Linked DNA regions of Homo sapiens. The protein of the gene in region 1 purifies or fractionates together with the protein of each later gene. This does not show direct contact. Each region holds a gene or a part of one and is shown in the gene's direction. Other genes may lie near its edges.

Evidence for each region.
Region 2: the proteins of POLR3G (region 1) and GNL2 fractionate together in Homo sapiens (co-fractionation; one large-scale study listed by BioGRID). This does not show direct contact.

The regions. Positions count from the first base shown.
Region 1 is NC_000005.10:90,509,036-90,512,863, forward strand, and holds part of POLR3G (DNA-directed RNA polymerase III subunit RPC7), read left to right. Parts: intron 1-3,017; coding exon 3,018-3,104; 3' UTR 3,105-3,828. UniProt on the Homo sapiens protein: DNA-dependent RNA polymerase catalyzes the transcription of DNA into RNA using the four ribonucleoside triphosphates as substrates.
Region 2 is NC_000001.11:37,585,792-37,589,619, reverse strand, and holds part of GNL2 (nucleolar GTP-binding protein 2), read left to right. Parts: intron 1-367; exon of another isoform or gene 368-660; intron 661-2,124; coding exon 2,125-2,309; intron 2,310-3,828. UniProt on the Homo sapiens protein: GTPase that associates with pre-60S ribosomal subunits in the nucleolus and is required for their nuclear export and maturation.

The DNA.
Region 1 (3,828 bases):
GGGCAACATATATATATTTATGATTTCCTTTATTTAAATTCAACAATTTACAGCAATTATATGCATCTTCTATATGCCAGGCATTGTGCTAATTGCCAAGTCTTAGACAAACATGGTTGCTTCCCTTAATTTTTGTTACATAATGCTTTTCGTTTTTCTCCTATTTCTGGTACATTTTTATGGTCTCTGGAGTTCTTTCTAGTCTTTAAATGTCAGTATTCTTCAGGGCTCTTCCCTCGGGCTTCTTTTTCTTGCTGTAATCTCTCTGATTGCATCCCTCCCCATAGTTACCCTGTATAAACATGTAACTCCTCAGTTCTTTTTCATTCAACCTATAGTAAGTGTACACTAAGTATATGCTTGGAATTGTACTAGGCAATGGGAATATGAAGATAAGATACAGTTCTTCTCTCAGGGAAATTACTAGAGAGACAAAAAAGGTAACAGTTAATATACAGTGAATAATGCTGTGATACAGTAGTACCGGATGCTATAGCGGCATATAAGAGATGCTGTGGGCACACCAAAGTCTATTTTAGGCATATCAAAGATGATATTTCAAAGAAGACAATTTAGGTGATCTGAAGAGCTAATCAGATCAAGATAGGAACATGGAATGGAGTGGACACTTGCAGGGAGAAAAAAGAACATGGAGAGAGGCTTGCAGGTGATGGGAGTGTAGCTTCTTAATTTAACTGACCAGATAAATCGGTATGGCGGGACTAGAGGGTGTTAAGTGGGCTTGTGTTGAGAGATGAAGCTGGAGAGATGAGCAGGTCATTAAGGACTTTGAATGTCAAGCTGAGAAATTTGACTTTATCCTGAGTACTGTGGGGAGCATTGAGGGGTTTTAAACAGTGGAATGGTATAATCATGTTTATATTTTAGAAAGCTCAGTTGCTTTGAATGGAAGAGCCAAGTTTGGGTCATATTTGAAAGCTTATTGCTGTAAACCAGTGGTTTTCAATACTCTTGAAAGGATATTTGGTAGTGTCTGGAGATATATTTGGTTGTCACACTGCCATGGGGGTAGTAGGGTGGTGGTGCTATAGGTTCTAGTTTGTGTGGTCAATACTCTAGACAAGACTGGCATTTGCAATGCTCTGTTGACAATGTCTGCTTGCACTGAGTTCAGGATCAAGACCATCCTGGCTAACACGGTGAAACCCCGTCTCTACTAAAAATACAAAAAATTAGCCGGGCGTGGTGGCAGGCGCCTGTAGTCCCGGCTACTCGGGAGGCTGAGGCAGGAGAATGGCGTGAACCAGGGAGGCAGAGCTTTCAGTGAGCCGAGATCGCGCCACTGCACTCCAGCCTGGGTGACAAGAGTGAGACTGCGTCTCAAAGAAAAAAAAAAAAGATTACTAACGTCACACAATTACCAAATTTGAATCACTTAAACAGAACTTGGAGGAGGTACTCATGTCTAAAACACAAGTGACATATGCTTGATTTGGAATACTAGAGTATCCCTTCCTTATTCATCTCCACTTTATGTACAAATCGGCTTACTTTTATTTCTACACAAGTGTTCTTGCCAAAGGTCTCCTTTACAATGAGACCTCATTTGAACTCTCAACCATGCCACCCTCCCCTGGTACACAGGCCCCAAGCTTCACCCAGGTGTCTAAATATTGCCAAATTTTTTTGGCACCAGAAAAGCCAGGCCAACTTTCCAGAGATGGGAATGGTCTTAGCTGAATGCAGAAACTTAAAGTATCTAGGGAAGAAAAAGTAATGAGATAACTATCTAAAGAATGCATATACAGTGAATAATGCATGTTACCTTTCTTGCATTATGTAAATATATTAAAAATCCCACTATCCAGATTTAAAAAAAAAAAAAAACTTTGGAAAAAAATTAGTAAAATTGATAGGAGACTTTCTTTTGAGAGTAGTCTGTATTTCTTACTATAGATAGTAGAGATGTGGACATTAATTTCTTATTATAGCAGATCTCAATCATGTGCAAAAATGTAGTGACTAGTAAAAGAAACACCCATGGTCTTATCACTCAGCTTTAACAATGGTCAATTCATAGCTAATCTTTCAACCACTCATTCATCTACCCAATCCCTCCCTGTCCACCCATCCCATTCCCCGTGCCCCATGTGCCTTGGATTCCAAAGAAAATCCTAGGCATCGTATCATTTCATCCACAAATATGTCAGTATGGATTCAAAAATAAGGGCTCTTTAACAACATCACTGTATCATTATAACACCCCATACAATGAAATATAATTCCTTAATTTCATCAAATATCTGGCCAGTATTGAATTTTCTTGGTTGTCTCAAAAAGTTTGTTTGTTCCAAACAGAATCCAAATACAATCCATACATTGCAACTGATTAATAACTCTTAGGTTTAATTTATATCCAAAGTGGATTTTTGATTGTAAGATACTGGAGGCCCGGAAAAATAAATAAGAAAGTAATATTTGAATTTTTGATAGAAAGCACAGATATTTTCTGAGTTATTTGCATGGATGATAGTCTTATTCAGCCACAAGAAAAAGAAACTAAGAGGTCCTAGATAGAATATAATATAGGCATCTTTTGGATTTGGTTTGGTATCATGCCTTTTTTTTTTTTTTTAATAGGAAGTAAAAGTCTTTCTGGCTTATGCTTAGTTATGTTTTATGACTAAAAATCTCAGTACTGGTGTAGTCTAATGGATGTTAATGTAAACTGGCTTTTTTTCTTGTCTGTGCATTTTTTGGGTAAGTGTTTAGTGGTTTAGCTAACTAAACTATGTATCATCCCAGTAAGCTGTAATGTGTTAGTAGCTATATTATCCTATTGAGATGGTATGGGCAACCCTTCATGTTCTCTTAGCTAGTTAGTGCCTGACAAGAGTGGAAGGTGGTGGTCTTAAGGAAGAAAGCGGCACAGGTAAACACAAGTGAAAACTGTTGTGTTTTTGAAGCAGATAAAAAGCAGAGACTTTTAGGCCTGGAATATTTTCTTACTACTCATTCATTTTAACGTTTACAAAGGAATATATCATTTCACTTAGGAAAATGACTACATTAATTCATACTTTGAAGATGGAGATGATTTTGGCGCAGACAGTGATGACAACATGGATGAGGCAACCTATTAGGCATGAAATTTTTCAAAAAATATTTTTATGATGCAGCTTCTGAACATTTGGACAGACTTGATTTGTATTTTATTTCTGATAAGGAATAAGTACTTGTTTCTGTTGTTTTGGACAAATAGTTGTTACCAAAATATTCAAAACCACTTTGAGTTTACATACTAGTTACCTTAAAAATTATTCCCTGACACTCTGACATTCCTTCTAAACACCTCTGCCATCTCTCTTATGTACTCTCATGGGTTTTTTTGTATGATTTGAATATGAATGTGCCTAAAGAATTTTTGCTCTCTTAATCTATGTATACATACTTGAACAAATCATTCTTGCTTAACTGCTGATCTTTTGTAAAACTATTGCTAGTCATAATGGATTTCTATAACCTGAAAGTTGATATAATACAGCACGTGGAGCACTTTAAAAACAAAGAAACTTGAAAATAATTTTATTTTTTACCTTTACATGGTGTGTTCTAGACTACTGCATTATGACTACATAAACCTACCTGAGCTCTTACAAGTACAGAATTGTGAGACAGAGGTTTTGTGATGGAAAACATACACATAGGGAAAAATACCAAACTGAGCAATATAAATTTCACAGCTCACATCTTAGCCAGTACAAAGAAACTTTCACATGGGGTGAATATTATAATACTTGAATTTGAGACTTAATACTGTATATGAATTAATCATCCCACTGTAATAACTGACATCTTCAAATAGTT
Region 2 (3,828 bases), on another chromosome or scaffold:
GGGTTAAATAGTTCAGGCTGGGCGCGGTGGCTCACGCCTGAATCCCAGCACTTTGGGAAGCCAAGGCGGGTGGATCACAAGGTCAGGAGATTGAGACCATCCTGGCTAACACGTGAAATCCCGTCTCTACTAAAAATACAAAAAAAAATTAGCCGGGCGTGGTGGCGGGCACCTGTAGTCCCAGCTACTCAGGAGGCTGAGGCAGGAGAATGATATGAACCCGGGAGGCAGAGCTTGCAGTGAGCCGAGATTGCGCCACTGCGTGCCAGCCCAGGCGACAGAGCAAGACTCCGTCTCAAATAAATAAATAAAAATAAAATAGTTCAAAGAAAACTGTTTACTTGCAGAACAAAATAAAAACCAAGGCCTGGTTATTGCCTCAGGTTTTGTCAGTTATGTTTTGTTTTATGATGCACTAGAAGAATGGCACCTATTAGTAGAATGACTGTTTTCTTTCAGGGGAACACATGAGTGTAATTCATGAACCACAGACAAGTTGCTCATTTCCCTTGTTCTCTTTGTCTGTTCTCCCTAAAGCCATCTTTTAAGCAACTATTGAATCCTGTTTATGAGAAGAACAGAGAGGTTCTGTGATGGATTTATTGCTTCGTTGCCTGTACTTGTTGTCAGTGCTTCTAAAATTCAGTGTTTAAATATCTGGTATGTAGAATGAAGGGTCTGCAGTTGCACCAGTCAGCTTCTTTGTTGATGCAGAAAGCTGCTCAGAGTAATTGATGAGTTTTCTGCTTTGGCCTTGAAAAACCTTAACTATTTTATTTTAGTGTAATATCTATTACTTATAAAATCTAATTCTGAGATTATTTTGCACAGTGGAGTTAGATCAGATACGCATATTCATCTATATGTGTTTTAGAACTACTGTATTTCTGTAGCAATACAGTAAGAGTACTGTAACTTTGCATATGTGCTTTATATACTGTATATTACTGTGTTATACTTACTAATGTGTGTTATACTTACTAATGTGTAGGTTTATAGACATAAAGCCTTGGGTACTGTAACTTACAGGTTAAGAGATTTTGAAGGATAATTTTGGTCACACTTGATTTTACCCAGTGACATTAGACCCTATTTCCCATGTAAAATGAGCTGCTTCTGTTTGGAGATGCTCCCGAGTGGAACGTAGTGACTAAAACTAAACTGAGTTGTGGGTTAGGGCATCTGAGAAAATGATAATAGTTTAAGGATCTTTAGAAGTTGGAAGAGGGGATCTGTTAAAGTTCAGAAACCACAGGGGCTGCTGCATCATCCTCACAGCTTTTGGTAGTGGTGCTTACGGAGGAGCTTGTACTAGGGGGAAAAGGGTGATTTTTTTTTTTTTAATTGTCTGCAGGCTGTTAACATTCCGTTATGTGATAGATCCCAACTCTTTTATCTTGCTTCAGAAATTCCTATGCCTGTAACTCCTTTACAGGCACATCAAGTTCTAGTTAGTATCAGGTTCCTTTTATCACATCTAAACTATTATTTTGGACTTTTGCTAGATGTTTTTCATCCGAAGACTTGCCATGTGCATTTAATAAAAACGTTACCTAAATTAGGGAAAATGTTATCTGAAACTAAAATGCATCTTACAAAACAAGCAATTCCTTTTAGCCATGAAAGAAATTAACTTCCAAGAAAAAGTTGGCATTTACAGTTGGTTTAAAAAAAACTCACAAATTTGAGTATGATTGTCCTTGACAAAATCTATGAATTTGGCGAATTTTATGCTCTTGTTTGAAAGCTATAAAAAATGGTGGAAAAGATTAATTTTCACCACTGTAGCCTTAATTACATTTGACTGAAATTTATGATAAATGAAATAAAGCAGAGTTTTTGGCAAGTTTTTGTACAACTATTCATATTTACTTTGATTATTTGTATTACTTTTGTATTTCTCCAAGGAAGCTTACAGAACTTCAGAATAAGGGAACCAGTGTTTGTGCCATTTCAACAAGTAATTCTGATTTGAAACCAGACTGAAACCATGTCTTACAGATTTGGGTATGGGTTGAACCTTGGAAAAATAAAATCAGAAAGTCTTTCCTAGGTGGGTGTTGAGCTTTTTGCTTTTTCTCAGTGCTTTTCTTAGTTTTACCTGTTATTCTCCTTTCTCTTCAGAACTTGAAGGTGCACATTCTTGATACTGAAAGTTTTGAAACTACATTTGGCCCTAAGTCACAGAGGAAACGACCAAACTTATTTGCAAGTGATATGCAGTCTCTTATCGAAAATGCTGAAATGTCCACTGAGAGCTATGACCAGGGCAAGGATCGTGATTTGGTAACTGAAGACACTGGTGTGAGGTACATTTTTTTTTTTGCTTCTTTGTTTTTGTTTTTTTTTTTTTGAGATGGAGTCTTGCTTTGTCGCCCAGGCTGGAATGCAGTGGTGCGATCTTGGCCCACTGCAACCTCCGCTTCCCAGGTTCAAGCAATTCTCCTGCCTCAGCCTTTTGAGTAGCTGGGACTACAGGTGGATGCCTCCATGCCTGGCTAATTTTTTGTATTTTAGTAGAGACAAGGTTTCACCGTGTTGCCCAGGCTAGTCTTGAACTCGTGAGCTCAGGCAATCCACACTCCTTGGCCTCCCAAAATGCTAGGATTACAGGTGTGAGCCACTGCACCCGGTCGAGGTACAGTTTTGAAGTTCATGCAAATCTCATCATTTGCTCTTCTGCAACAAAACATTTTCTTTCAACTTATTTTGCCTGTGTGAAGCTCAGTGCTTTAACTCATATATGGAGTTATCTTCTTCCCTCAGACTGGAGACGTTGGTGAAATTGGGGCTAGACTGAAGATGTCTAAGGTGGCTTGATTGACAAAGGTCTCTCCTCATCCCCAAAATAAATAACATTTTTTCATTTATAATAGTAATACACCAGTCATAGACAAATTAGGAAATATAGTTAAGTTGGAAAATACAACAAAAAGAACATAACTCATGATCCCATTGCTGATATTAAGCATTGTTAATGCCTCTGTGAATATCGGGGCTTCCTTAACTGGAGGTCTCTGAGTTAATGGATGGCCTGTAAGGTTTCTTTGACTCTTTGAAGAAAATGTGGAAAATTTGTGAGCTTACATAAAGGCAGTAGGGTTTTGTGTTTTTTGTTTTTGTTTTGGGGAGGAGGAGGAGGAGAGGAAGTATCTATAATTTTAATCATATTCTCGTAGGGATCCATACTCAAAAGGAGAATCAGTCACCGGCTGGCTGCAGTGGCTTACCTGTAATACTAGTTTTTTGGGAGGCTGAGGCAGGAAGATCGCTTGAGCACAGGAGTTTGAGACCAGCCTGGGCAACATAGTGAGACCTTGTCTCTACAAAAAATAAAAAATTGGCTGGGCATAGAGTCCCAGCTACTCAGAAGGCTGAGGTGGGAGGATCACTGGAGCCCAGGAATTTGAGGCTGCAGTAAGCTGTGATTATTAGGAATATATTTCTATGTCAGTACATAATCAACAATAATATAATATTTATTGTCAGAGTAGTATTTTGTTTGTTATGGCCAGTCTCATTGTTGGACATTTATACTGTGTATAGTTTTTCCTTATGGTGAACAACACAAGGATGAAGCATCAATGTGACCGCATCTTTTTCATCCTTAATTATTCCCCAAAGATAAGTTCTTACGGAGCAAAGCATGATATCAAAAGGTATGCATGCTTTTTGATAGGCAGCTGCCACATTGCTCTTGAGAAAGGGTTTAATTTCATTTCCCTTGGGCAGTGCTAGAAAGCTCTCATTCTCGTCCATCTCATGTCTCTTAAATGAAGTGGAGGTTTTGCTGTCTTAGTGAAGAGGCATTGTCCTTTGACTGCATCA